4 linked regions of the Homo sapiens genome follow. The protein of the gene in region 1 purifies or fractionates together with the protein of each later gene. This does not show direct contact. Each region holds a gene or a part of one and is shown in the gene's direction. Other genes may lie near its edges.

Region 1 (3,500 bases):
GGTGCTATTGAAGAAATGTAAATTAATTAAACTGCTGACTTGTACATTTTTCTGATTCCAAATTGAGATTTTTTTTTTTTGAAAATGCTATACAGCAGTAGCAACCTGGAATATTAAAAATATGTTGCCCAAAGTACATTGTATATCATAGTTATTTCTGAAGGAGATGTAATCACTTGTTCAAAATCATGTTTTTTTATAAGAACGCTTTATGGTTTAATAATAGCATGCATTTTTTTCTTTTGGCCTGCAGGGTTTTTTTTTTTTTTGTTTTGTTTTTTTTTGCAGAGAAAAGTATTTATAAAGAATTTACCTAGATACTCTCATTAGTTAGATTGAAATAAGAGATTAAGTTCTGTACCGTGGTAATACCCACCCAGTTTCCATTACCTTGAGGTGTTCATTATGGCTTACCAAAAGTTGATTGTGCAATCAATCAGACACTTTAAGATTTCTGCTAGTCTTTTACTTATTTTCTGATTTTTTACTGCACGGAATCAAATTTCTTAAATTAATTTTTCAGCATCCATTCCCTTTTCCTAACGTGTGAAAAATGCCATTGTGTATATATGATATGGGTCATTGTATAAGTTTCTTATTCTAACTGCTGTGAGATTTGTAGCTGCTGCATTAAGTGCATGCCTGCCTGTGCCTTTCTGACTCAAAACTATTTTCTTATGCTGTCCATCACATTTCTGGGTGACTTTTTATATATTCACTCAGTTAATCATTCAGTTAAAAGTGTGTTAAATCTGCCTTTTTGAAAAGTGTAACAGTGCACCCTATGGTATGTGAACTCATTCTTGTGAGAAGACATAATTTCTGGATGTTAAGTAGACATTTATTTTTCTCTATTGAGTTAATATGGAGAAAGTGATTTTGTGCCCTTTAACTAGATTTAAATATGTGCTCTTTGATATGAGGGAGTGATCTCTAGTTCTTAGATATGTATGCTCCACTTTCATGTTTTATTTGCTTAGAATCTTCCTGACTATGGATAATTGGGTGATAATCTCAAATTCTTGCTGAATTGAGACACTAGTACACCCATTAGTACATAATTCCTATTGAAGACCATTAGTTCTATATTTGAAGCTTTTAAGGTAATCTATTGTTGACCTACTTTCTTTTTGTCTTAAGGGATTTTTTTGCAGAATGGGAAGGTAGTTGTAAATGTAGAAAGTCTGAATTTTTTTTTTTTTTGCGCTAGAACAAAATAGGGTGGACTATAAAATGGAAATTAGGAAAAGGGAATGATTTCTCTAATTTTCAAAGTGCCAAAATACACAAGGTATTTTTTTGTACCAGTTCATTGTGATTTTATAATTTATGTTTAAAGCATTTTTTTCCATGATGGTTCATTTTCTTTCTTTTTATTTTTTATTTTTTTGAGACGGAGTTTCGCCTTGTTGCTCAGGCTGGAGTGCAAAGGTGCCATCTCAGTTCACTGCAACCTCTGCCTCCCAGGTTCTAGCGATTCTCCTCCCTCAGCCTCCGGAATACCTGGGATTACAGGCATGTGCCACCACGCCCGGCTAATTTTGTATTTTTAGTAGAGACGGGGTTTCTCCATATTGGTCAGGCTGGTCTCAAACTCCCGACCTCAGGTGATCCACCTGCCTCAGCCTCCCAAAGTGCTGGGATTACAGGCATGAGCCACTACGCCTGGCTATCATTTTCTGTAATGAAAATATTTACAATTTGTTAATGTATGTTTTCGGTTTAGCATTTTGTTGTTAGTAGCACATGGTGTTACAGTATTTATATATTTTTAATAGCAATAATTGCCACCCGGTAATAGTTGCCATATTAACCTCCAATTGCTAGTAAATATTTTTAAGTACATAATAGACAGCAATTTAAGGCATAGTGTAGCAGTTTACTGGACTGTTTTAAAGAGCCATTTGTATGTGTGATGAGTTCATAATTTTAAAGAGACAATAATGTACCTTAGGCCTGTATGCTACAAATATTTTGCTGTGGATGTTGCTTGAAGTACTCACTGGGAAGAAGTTAGGTAGGGCCTATTCTTTGTGAGAAGAATGGGCAAGGGGGTGTGTTTAGGATAGTATGTATTTATTGAATTTATGCCAGGTGCTTATATAGCTTATCATTTTTTTTTTTTGTTTTGGTTTTTTTTTGAGACCAGAGTCCCACTGTGTCACCCAGGCTGGTGAAGTCTTGGCTCACTGCAACATTCAGCTCCCGGGTTCAAGGGATTCTCTTGCCTCAGCCTCCCAGGAGCTGGGATTACAGGCGCCTGCCACCATGCCTGTCTAATTTATTTGTGTTTTTAATAGAAATGGGGTTTCGCCATGTTGGTCAGGCTGCTCTGGAACTCCTGACCTTGTGATCCGCCTGCCTCGGCCTCCCAAAGTGCTGGGATTACAGGCATGAGCCACTGCGCCCGGCCAGCCTGGTTTTTAATTGTATTCCTTACCACTTTCAGAGATCTCTCTCACCAGTTTGTACTAGTGCTATAAATTGTGATAACTAAGTTAATTTTGTTCTATAATTATTTTTGCCTAATAATTTAAAATTGAGATGAAACTCATCTCAATGAAAATATGTAAATATTACTATTTACATATTTATAGAGAAACAGACAACAGAAAAATTGTTTATTTTTTATGAACAGTTAATTCAGCTGTCTCTCAACTTTGAATCAAAGATAGAGTAGATTTTTTTTGAAACATTCGACTTATTTTTGATTGAAGAAAATAACAATAATAACAATGTTCCCCTTCTTTAAGCTAGTAGTAGGAGTACTGATTTGTGTGTGTGTGTGTTTTTTTTGAAAGTGAATGATACATTTATTTCACAGGAGCTAACCAGTTAGCCAGATTAGACAGATTTTATGAGAATTAGTAGTATGGTTGACTATTAGGTATTACTGTTATTGAACTGTGCATTGCAACCGTAGAAATGAAGAAAAAAATACATGCAACATTGTTATTAGTGTCATTTATTTCAGATGTATTTTGTGCAGATCTGATTTACAAACTGTTGTGTGATGTTGGCCACCAGAATTTCTGTTTTGTCATAACGTTTCTTTTTTTTTTTTTTTTGAGACGGAGTCTGGCTCTGTGGCCCAGGCTGGAGTGCAGTGGCGCGATCGCGGCTCACTGCAAGCTCCGCCTCCCGGGTTCGTGCCATTCTCCTGCCTCAGCCTCCCGGGTTCACGCCATTCTCCTGCCTCAGCCTCCCGAGTAGCTGGGACTACAGGCGCCTGCCACCATGTCTGGCTAATTTTTTTTTTGTATGTTTAGTACAGATGGGGTTTCACCATGTTAGCCAGGATGGTCTCGATCTCCTGACCTCGTGATCCTCCCGCCTCGGCCTCCCAAAGTGCTGGGATTACAGGCGTGCCTGTCATAATAACATTTCTATTTTAAGAAATTATATTTAATGTATTTCAAAGTGAGGTAGTTGGGTAGCCTAAAAGTCTGTATAGTATTCTAGCGCACACACTCACACACACACACACACGTATTTGTTTC
Region 2 (3,500 bases), on another chromosome or scaffold:
TTCTGTGCCTGGTTTATTTTATTTAATACAATGTCCTCTAGGTTCATCCATGTTGTCACATTTGACAGAATTTCTTTTTTAAAGCTGAATAGTATTCCATTATGTTGTATATACCACATTTATATCCCATCCATCAATGGACACTTAGGATGATTCCATATCTTGGCTATTGTGAATAATGGTGTACCTAACATGAGAGTACAGATACCTCTTTGACATACTGAGTACATTCCCTTTGGATATATATCTGGTAGTGAGACTGTTGGGTGATATGGTAGTTTTATTTTTAATTGTATGAGGAACCTCCATACTGTTTTCCACAATGGCTATACTAATTTACATTGCTACCAACAGTGTGCAAAGGGTCCCTTTCTCCCTACATTCTAACACTTGTTGTCTTTCATCTTTTTTATAATAGCGATTCTAACAGGACATGCCATCTCGTGCTTTAATTTGCATTTTCTTGATTAGTGATGTTTTAATACACTTGTTGACCATTTGTATGTCTTCTTTTGAGAAATGTTTATTCAGATCCTTTGCCTATTTTTTAATTGGGTTCTTCTCTTGTTATTTTTTGAGTCCCCTATATATTTTGGATAGTAACCCCTTAAAAGATGTATGGTTTGGCAAATGTTATTTTAGATTTTACCCTCTTCTGTGAAGGCTCAGAAGGCTGACTGCCTTCAGACCCAGGAACAGAGACTTAAATGAGCACTGAGATTTGCTTCCCCAGAACAGTTTTATAGATAGAAAAGCACTTCTGGTCAGCAACTTAGAACTGTTCGTTTGTCGGGAACAGTTGTGTGAGTGGAAATTGCAATATCAGCTGTTATCAGCTCTAACTAGGTCTTGAAATTTGCATAATTTCAGCTCCAGTGTTACATGAAAGTTATGTGGTGTTTGGAAGGATGCCTTTTTCTTTGTTTTTTAGCAAAGGAGTCTTTTAAATCATTTGTATACAAAAGGAATTAGGATCCAAATGCTGTTATTGATACAGGTTTGATGCTTCAAATGTGGCTTTTCCCTCCCTTAGGGGTATAGAACAGGCTATGCTTACAGGCATCCTCTCATTCGAGAGAAGCCTAGGCACAAGAGTGATGTGGAAATCCCAGCAACTGTGACTGCTTTTTCCTTTGAAGACGATACAGTGCCACTCTCTCCTCTCAAATACATGGCACAGAGGCAACAGCGTGAAAAAACAAGATGGCTGAACTCACCAAATACTTACATGAAAGTGAATGTGCCTGAGGAGTCTCGGAACGGAGAAACCAGTCCCCGAACCAAAATCACGGTATGCCAGTATTTTATGTAGTTTGCCTTTACTAAATATTTTGCCTAGTTACTCAAGAATTGAATGTTCTATATTGAAAATATTTGGAAAGTAAAATAATATTAAAAATATTACTGTCACTTATCTGGCTTTAACTTTGTGCAAGACACTCTTCTAAGTGCCATACACGAATTTTCTCATTTAACTCTCCTAATATGAATGATGCTGTTTTTCTATTTTATAGATGAGAAAACCAAGGCAAGAAGGGTTAATTAATCATGTTTTAATGGTAAACTCGGGATTTGCATGAAGACAGTCTGACTCTTGAGCCCAGTTCTTGTCCACTACATGATACTGCTTTGTAGTTTCTATTAAACTACACCAGTAGTTTAATTCACCAGTGAATTAAAACTGTAAAAGTTATCAACTCCTAATTGTACCAAAGCTGCATGAATCACTGCACATAGCTACCCTTAGGCAAGATCTTGTAGGTAGAGAAATGGGTTATTTTATCTTTTTCAGAATTTTGCATTAGATTTGGTTTGGTTTGGTTTTGGAGTGCATACCACCAAACATTCTCTAGGTCAGTCTTGTCCAGTCCATGGCCCAGGATGGCTTTGGATGCAGCTCAACACAAATTTGTAAACTTTATTAAAACATTATGAGAATTTTTTGTGATTTTGTTAAACTAATCAGCTATCGTTAGTGTTGGTGTATTTTATATGTGGCCCAAGACAGTTCTTCCAATGTGGCCCAGGGAAGTCAAAAGATTGGACACCACAGTTCTAGATATTCAGAATTAGTTCATCTTATATAAACTAATGGCATTCAATATGAAAATACCTAGGCATCAAAATGTCTTTTCTGTAGTCTATAAGATTTCTTGCCTCCCAGTAAAAGAACATAATTAAACTCATTGGTTTCTCAGAATTCATTTTGTTTACAGAGATTGATGGTCAGCCATCATTAATCTTGATCGAGATTCGCTTTCTTTAAGGATTATAATATGGGGTAAATGAGAAGAATTATGTAAGCTCCTTCCAACCCCGTGGTTCTATTTTGCTATTATATACCAGATTATCCCCATTATAAAATGCCGATTAGGGCTTGGCCTTTTCTGTCAGCCAAAAATAAAAAGTGAAGTCTGATAAACTAAAATCTTAAGATATTTCTTAAGTTTTTTTTTTTTTTGATTACTCCTTTGCCATCTTCATCTGACTGCTGTCTTCAGTGCAGAAGACAAAACACTGAATGTGAGTGAATGTGAGATCATGCTCTCTGTGCTTGAAGTAGTTTCAGCATCATATTTTCACTTGACACAAGGAGAAAGTTTAATTAGCAGTATAATTGAATATTTATGTGAATCGTAATGGCATTTATTTTTTAAGTAAATGTTGATTTTGAGCCTTTTCTAACTAGTATGAGATGAAACTAATTCACCACTAAGATACTGCTTAGTGAAATTATTTAAACATTGGCAATGCCCCTCTTGAGACTATAAGCAGTTATCTAACAATCTACTAATATTTTCTTAACACAAAGCTTCATTTTAGAAAATTTTTGATTCTTTAGTGGATGAAAGCAGAAGACTCATCTAAAGTTAGTGGTGGAACACCTATCAAAATTGAAGATCCAAATCAGTTTGTTCCTTTAAACACAAACCCGAATGAGGTACTAGAAAAGAGAAATAAGGTAAGACATGGTCTTCTATAGCCAGGGGAGACATTTTAATTGCTTTATGTTTAAATCACCAGTGGTTGAATCTGGTTAATGCCAAACTTAGAAGTTTGAATACAGAAGAATTTGGAATTTAATTCAGTATAATTTTAGCTTATATTGAATGCCTCCAGCTCTGTGCTAGTAATTGGTGAACAGGCTACATGGGGAAGATGTATTGAACATTTTTCTGCGTTAGAGAACCCTGCTATTAGGGGGAAAATGCAGTTCTCTAACAACCTAAGACGAAAGGAAATAACTTGCCATAAAGAGCAGAGGAGACTAATATGAGTTGTTAGGATGGTAAAAGAGGTCTTTATGGAGGTGGGAATTGAAGAGACTCTCACTCTGGAAATGTCAAGTAGTAAGCTTTTATGAAAAGATAAAGCAAAGGTCATCTGCATAGTTGCCCTCAAGAACTTTATATTGAATTGTTTTTCAATTCAGATTCGGGAACAAAATCGATATGACTTGAAAACAGCAGGACCACAATCTCAGTTGCTTGCTGGAATTG
Region 3 (3,500 bases), on another chromosome or scaffold:
CACACATTTCTAAGTCCCTTCTGGCTGGCACCAGTGCCTGGCTCTTAACTGGTATTGTAAGATGACTCTTCAGTCCTTTCAGTCCTCGTCCAGAAGGATTGAAGGCCTAAATATGCCAAGGGACAGGATTCCCAGGCTTAATCCTTCCTTTCCCCTGACTGGCAGGACAAGCCTTCAGTGGTATCGCTGCAGAATCTAATCGTACGAGACATTGCCAACCAGGAGAAAGGGATGTTTCTGATCAGCGCAGCCCCACCTGAGATGTACGAGGTGCACACAGCATCCCGGGATGACCGGAGCACCTGGATCCGGGTCATTCAGCAGAGCGTGCGCACGTGAGTGTCTGCCTGCCGCCTGCATGTGCTTATGACCTCAGGGTACCTGCAGCATTAGATCCCAACCATAGAACTCCCTGGGAACAGAATCCAGCATTCAGAGGTGGGGGAAGAGGTTGAGGGAGAGACAAAATGGCCCAAGACTGGAAAGGTCACCTATGTTCTTATGTCCTGTAAAGCCACATTTTATACATTGCCAACCTCAACTCCCTTTCAAATTCAGCATGAGCTGACAAGCAAGGGAATACTTTGAGCTGTCACATGGTGGCATACCTGCCAGCCAACAGTACAATTTCAGCTGCATTCACATGTTCATCTGTAGGCAGAGGGCTGTTATTTGGATTGTATTGTATTTTACATTTATTTTTCTAAAAATGAATGAAAAAGAGGATAATGAAAGCATCGATACTAGAGAGGAACAAGTCTCATAAACAGACTCAACACAATAGAAGCAAGAAGGAAATCAGTGTGTCAAAGCAGCAAATCTTTAGCTTCTATTGGACACACATTAGATTTGAGGCAGTCAACTATGTGTCTAATTGTGATGGGAAAAAACATCAAATAAAGCACAGGTAAGATGTTTAAAATGGATTCTGGAAGATTATGCCTAAAGAATGAAGTGTAAGTGTAATTCTAATTCAGATTTTTACAGGTTTTCTTTCTTTTTTTTTTTTAATTTTTTTTGAGACAGAGTCTCGCTCTCAGCTCACTGCAACCTCCACCTCCTGGATTCAAGCGATTCTCCTGCCTCAGCCTCCCAAATAGCTGGGACTACAGGTGCCCACCACGACCCCAGGCAAATTTTTTTTTTTTTTTTTTTTTTTTGGAGACAGAGTCTCTGTTGCCGGGCTGCCTCAGCCTCCTGAGTAGCTGGGACTACAGGCTCACGCCACCATGCCCAGCTAATTTTTGTATTTTTAGTAGAGACGGGGTTTTACCATGTTGGCCAGGATGGTCTTGATATCTTGACCTCGTAATCGACCCGCCTCAGCCTCCCAAAGTCCTGGGATTACAGGCATGAGCCACTGCACCCAGCCAAATTTTTGTATTTTTAGTGGAGACGGGGTTTTGCCATGTTGACCAAGCTGGTCTCGAACTCCTGATCTCAGATTTATCCGCCCACCTCAGCCTCCAAAAGAGCTGAGATTACAGGCATTAGCCACCATGCCCAGCCAAGATTTTTATAATTTTTCTTTAGCTTTCAGGGAATCAGTTCTCAACTTTATAATTTGTAAACCTTTTTTTTTTTTTAACTTCTGCACCATGGAATTTTGAAAAGGTTTTTAGAAATGCATATAAAAGTATGAAATTGCAGGCCAGGCACAGTGGCTCACGCCTGTAATCCCGGCACTTTGAGAGGCTGAGGCGGGTAGATCACTTGAGGTCAGGAGTTCAAGACCAGCCCGGCCAATATGGTGAAACCTCGTCTCTACTAAAAATACAAAAATTAGCCGGGCGTGGTGGCATAAGCTTGTAATCCCAGTTACGCGGGAAGCTGAGGCAGGAGAATCGCTTGAACCCGGGGGTGGAGGTTGCAGTGAGTCAGGATTGTGCCACTGCACTCCAGCCTAGGTGACAGAGTGAGACTCCATCTCCAAAAAAAAATTATGAAATTGCCTATTCCAAGAAAGCAGTTCAAAATAACCTGTCCTGTTGACAGATCTGTAGTGGCTTCTTTATTAATAGTATTAATATTTATAATTGTGGCCAGGCGCTGTGGCTCACACCTGGAATCCCAGCACTTTGGGAGGCTGAGACAGGCGGACCACTGGAGTTCGAGACCAGCCTGGCCAACATGGCGAAACCCTGTCTCTACTAAAAATATAAAACTTAGCCAGGCATGGTGGTGCGTGCCTGTAGTCCCAGCTGCTTGGGAGACTGAGGCAGGAGAATCACCTGAACCTGGGAGGCAGAGGTTGCAGTGAGCCAAGATCCTGTCACTGGACTCCAGCCTGGGCGAAAGTGCAAGACTCTCTCTCAAAAAAAAAATTATAATTGTGGAAATTAATAATATTAATTGTAATTGATTTGTTGAGCTTCTGTTATGTTCAAAGCACTTTAACATTTCATTTAATCCTAATGAAAAACCTATGAGGAAGATATTACCTTCATTTTTCAAATGAGGAAATAGAGAGGTTACCACCTGGTAAACAGTGGAGCCAGGATTTGCATCCTGTTTGCTTGATGCCAAAGCCTGTACTTGACCCTCTGCACTGTGCTGCCTTTCCAAGCGACCTTTGGAGAGATATATCTCAGTAAACGCAGATAATCAGTGCTAAGAAATGGGAGAAGGTCGGCCGGGCGCGGTGGCTCATGCCTGTAATCCCAGCACTTTGGGAGGCGGAGGATCACCTGAGGTCAGGAGTTTGAGACCAGCCTGGCCAACGTGACGAAACCCCATGTCTACTAAAAATACAAAAATTAGCCAGGCATGGTGGTGCGTGCCTGTAATCCTAGCTACTCAGGAGGCTGAGACAAGTGAATCACTTGAACCCAGGAGGAGGTTGTAGTGAGCTGAGATAGCGCCCTTGCACTCCAGCCTGGGTGACAGAGTAAGACTCCGTCTCAAAAAAAAAAGAAAGAAAAGGGAGAAGGTCAGGACTAAATTAAAGCTAGGGTGTGAGGCTGAGGAGTCTTATCAGAAGATGGAAGCATAAGGCATGTTTGGGAAGGAGGGAAGGCTGATTCTGGTCTATAACCTAGCTTCTGTCTCTCAATGGCATGCGACCTGTTACCCCTCCAGATGCCCATCCAGGGAGGACTTCCCCCTGATTGAGACAGAGGATGAGGCTTACCTGCGGCGAATTAAGAGTAAGTCCACCCACAAGGAGCTCCTTAGTAATTTATAATACATTCACACAATGGAATATTATGCAACTGTTAAAAAGATGAGATGGCTCTATGAGGGCTGGTGTAGATCCACAACTGAAACATATTAAGTGAAAAAAGCAAGGTTTAAAACAATGTAAAGTGTATACTACCATGTGTGTAAAAATAATATGGAAGACCAAGGTTGGGTGAGTAACTTACTTTTTCACTGTAAGGCCTTATATTAGTTAGGGTATGATTTAACTGCTATACTAAAAGACCACAAAAATCTTCTTCCTTAAAAAAGGAAGTAGATTGGCCGGGCGCGGTGGCTCACGCCTGTAATCCCAGCACTTT
Region 4 (3,500 bases), on another chromosome or scaffold:
CTGCCAAACTTTCCACAGTGGCTGCATTTTACATCCCACCAACAGTATATGAGGATCCCACCATCTCTACATCCTCATCAGCACCTACTATTTTCTGGTTTTTTCATAGTAGCCATCTTAATGGGTGTGAGATGATATTTCATTGTGGCTTTGATTTATATTTCTGTAATGATTAAGTGATGTTGAGCATCTTTTCATATGCTTATTGGCCACTTGTATATCTTCCTTGGAGAACTGTCTATTAAAATCCTTTTTTTTTTTAATTTAATTTTTTTTAAGAGACAGGATCTCTCTATGTTGCCCAGGCTAGTCTTGAACTCCTGGGCTCAAGGAATCCTCCTACTTTGGCCTCAAAGTATTGAGATTACAGGCATGAGCCACGGTACCCAGCCTATTCAAATTATTTGCCCATTTTTGAATCTGGTTGCTTGTTTTTGAGTCTTAAGAGTTCTCTGTATATTCTAGATATTAATTCCTTATCAGAAATATAATTTGCAAATATTTTCTCCCGTTCTATGGGTTGTTCTTTTATTCTGTTGTTAGTATCTTTGGTTTTGGTTTTGGGTTTGGGTGTTTTTTTTGTTTGTTTTTTGTTTTTTTCCGAGATGGAGTCTTACTCTGTTACCCAGGCTGGAGTGCATTAGTGCAATCTCAGCTCACTGCAACCTCTGCCTCCCAGGTTCAAGTGATTCTCCTGCCTCAGCCTCCCAAGTAGCTGGGATTACAGGCGCACGCCACCATGCCTAGCTAATTTTTGTATTTTTAGTATAGACAGGGTTCCACCATGTTGACCAGGCTGGTCTTGAACTCCTGACCTCAGGTGATCTGCCCACCACAGCCTCCCAAAGTGCTGGGATTACAGGCGTGAGGCACTGCACCTGGCCTGTTGTTAGTATCTTTTGATGTACAAAAGTTTTTAATTTTCTTTTTTTTTTTTTTTTTTTGAGACGGAGTCTCGCTCTGTCGCCCAGGCTGGAGTGCAGTGGCGGGATCTCGGCTCACTGCAAGCTCCACCTCCCGGGTTCACGCCATTCTCCTGCCTCAGCCTCCCAAGTAGCTGGGACTACAGGCGCCCGCCACTACGCCCAGCTAATTTTTTGTATTTTTAGTAGAGACGGGGTTTCACCGTTTTAGCCGGGATGGTCTCGATCTCCTGACCTCGTGATCCGCCCGCCTCGGCCTCCCAAAGTGCTGGGATTACAGGCGTGAGCCACCGCGCCCGGCCAAGTTTTTAATTTTCATGAAGTCAGATTTGTCTATTTTTTCTTCAGTTGCCTGTGACTTTGGTGTCATATCTAAGAAATCATTACCAAATTCAGTGTTGTGAAACTTTTGCCCTATGTTTTCTTCTGAGTTTTATAGTTTTTGCTCTTATGTTTAGATCTTTGACCCACTTTGAGCTAATTTGTTTTGTTTTTTATTTTTTGTTTGTGTTTTTTTGAGACAGAGTCTCACTCTGTCATCCAGGCTGATGCAATCGTAGCTCACTGCAGCCTCAATTCCTGGGCTCAAGTGATCCTCCTACTTTGGCCTCCCAGAGTACTGGGATTACATGTGTGAGCCACTGTGCCCAGACTTTTATTCTGTTTGTATCATAAATGGAATTGTTGGCCTAATTTCCTCTTCTTATTGTTCATTGTTAGTGTATAGAAACACAACTGGTTTTGGTTACGTGCATATGATGCGTAGTGCTTAAGTCAGGGTATTAGGGTGTCCGTCACCCGAGTACGATACATGTTTGTTAACCTTACTCCTTTATCAAACGTTGAACTTAATTCCTTCTATCTAACTGTATGTTTGTACCATTCAACCCACTTTTCTATATTTTTTTGAGATAGATTCTTACCCTGTCACCCAGGTTGGAGTGCAGAGGCATGGTCATCATGGTTCACTGTAACCTCTGCCTCCCAGGCTAGAGTGATTCTCCCACCAAAGCCTCCCAAGTAGCTGGGAACACAAGGTGTGCACCACCGTGCCTGGCTAATTTTTGTACTTTTGTAGAGACGGAGTATCACCATGTTGCCCAGGCTGGTCTCGAACTCCTGAGCTCAAGGGATCCTCCTGCCTCAGCCTCCCAAAGTGCTGGCCAACCCACTGTTCTCTATCTGAATATTTTCTCTGATTGTGTTGAAAGTTTTTATATTTGTAAAATTCTGAGCAGCAGAAACAGAGTAAACATGGGATTTTTTTTATATAATTTTTTTTTTTTTTTGAGATGGAGTTTTGCTCTTGTTGCCCAGGCTGGAGTGCAATGGCGCATTCTTGGCTCACCACAACCTCCGCCTCCCGGGTTCAAGCAATTCTCCTGCCTCGGCCCCCCGAGTAGCTGAGATTACAGGCATGCGCCACCATGCCTGGCTTATTTTGTATTTCTAGTAAAGACAGGGTTTCACCATGTTGGTCAGTCTGGTCTCGAACTCCTGACCTCAGGTGATCCGCCTGCCTCAGCCTCCCAAAGTGCTGGGATTTACAGGCGTGAGCCATGCGCCCGGCTGGTATTTTTTTTTTTTTTTGTCTGGAGATGGAGTCTTGCTCTGTTGCCCAGACTGTAGTGCATGATCTCAGCTCACTGCAACCTCTGCCTCCCGGGCCCAACCGATTCTTCCACCTCAGCCTCCCGAGTAGCTGGGACCACAGGCGCACACCACCATGCCTGGCTCATTTTTTGTATTTTTTTAGTAGAGACGGGGTTTCACCATGTTGCCCAGGCTGGTCTCGAACTCCTGAACTCAGGCAATCCGCCCGCCTCAGCTTCCCAAAGTGCTAGGATTGCAGGCGTGAGCCACCGCACCCGGCCGGGATGTTTTAATAATACTCTTGTCCCCGAAGTCTGAGCCAAGCTGTTTTGAAGGCTAGCCTGGTGTTACTTGATACCCAGAGCTGGCCATGTCTGCTGTGTATTTGTTACACGTAACGTGCTTTTCAAAGTGTGCCTGGTCTGAGCAAATACAGGGCATCAGAGGCTGGTGAAGGGGAAGCATCTCTAACCCTTGAAAGCTGCGTCTCCTGGCAGCAGTCCCTGGCACAGCCCTGGGCCCAGGAGAGCTCTCAGCCACATACCTGAGAGAACCAGCCTAGCCATGGGAACTCTCTTGTAGGAACCCACTTCCAGCGGGTGATCCCAGAAGATGGCCCTGCAGCTCAGAACCCAGAAAATGTCAAAAGGCTTCTCTTCTGCACCGGCAAAGTGTATTATGACCTCACCCGGGAGCGCAAAGCACGCGACATGGTGGGGCAGGTGGCCATCACAAGGATTGAGCAGGTGAGGGCAGGTGGTGCCATCAGGGTGTCCCCCCAGCGGGGGTCAGGGCTCTGGTGCCTTCACAGAACAGCCTTGCTTGGGGTGTGGCCCTCAGGTTCCTGACCTTCCCTGCTCGGAACACCAGTTTCCCTTTGCTGGATCTTGCCTGCCCTCTGAGTTTCCTCTTTTTGATCTGACCCCTGCTGTCTCCTAGCTGTCGCCATTCCCCTTTGACCTCCTGCTGAAGGAGGTGCAGAAG

The links. Proteins that work in one complex are often made in the same cells at the same time.
Region 2: the proteins of MED13L (region 1) and ADD3 purify together in Homo sapiens (affinity purification with western blotting; one study listed by BioGRID and IntAct). This does not show direct contact.
Region 3: the proteins of MED13L (region 1) and ARHGEF2 purify together in Homo sapiens (affinity purification with mass spectrometry; one large-scale study listed by BioGRID and IntAct). This does not show direct contact.
Region 4: the proteins of MED13L (region 1) and OGDH purify together in Homo sapiens (affinity purification with mass spectrometry; one large-scale study listed by BioGRID and IntAct). This does not show direct contact.

What each region holds. Positions count from the first base shown.
Region 1 is NC_000012.12:116,271,194-116,274,693, reverse strand, and holds part of MED13L (mediator of RNA polymerase II transcription subunit 13-like), read left to right. Parts: intron 1-3,500. UniProt on the Homo sapiens protein: Component of the Mediator complex, a coactivator involved in the regulated transcription of nearly all RNA polymerase II-dependent genes.
Region 2 is NC_000010.11:110,122,984-110,126,483, forward strand, and holds part of ADD3 (gamma-adducin), read left to right. Parts: intron 1-1,033; coding exon 1,034-1,291; intron 1,292-2,842; coding exon 2,843-2,962; intron 2,963-3,433; coding exon 3,434-3,500. UniProt on the Homo sapiens protein: Membrane-cytoskeleton-associated protein that promotes the assembly of the spectrin-actin network. Plays a role in actin filament capping. Binds to calmodulin.
Region 3 is NC_000001.11:155,954,548-155,958,047, reverse strand, and holds part of ARHGEF2 (rho guanine nucleotide exchange factor 2), read left to right. Parts: intron 1-165; coding exon 166-335; intron 336-3,078; coding exon 3,079-3,146; intron 3,147-3,500. UniProt on the Homo sapiens protein: Activates Rho-GTPases by promoting the exchange of GDP for GTP.
Region 4 is NC_000007.14:44,704,127-44,707,626, forward strand, and holds part of OGDH (2-oxoglutarate dehydrogenase complex component E1 isoform 1 precursor), read left to right. Parts: intron 1-3,098; coding exon 3,099-3,262; intron 3,263-3,455; coding exon 3,456-3,500. UniProt on the Homo sapiens protein: 2-oxoglutarate dehydrogenase (E1o) component of the 2-oxoglutarate dehydrogenase complex (OGDHC). Participates in the first step, rate limiting for the overall conversion of 2-oxoglutarate to succinyl-CoA and CO(2) catalyzed by the whole OGDHC.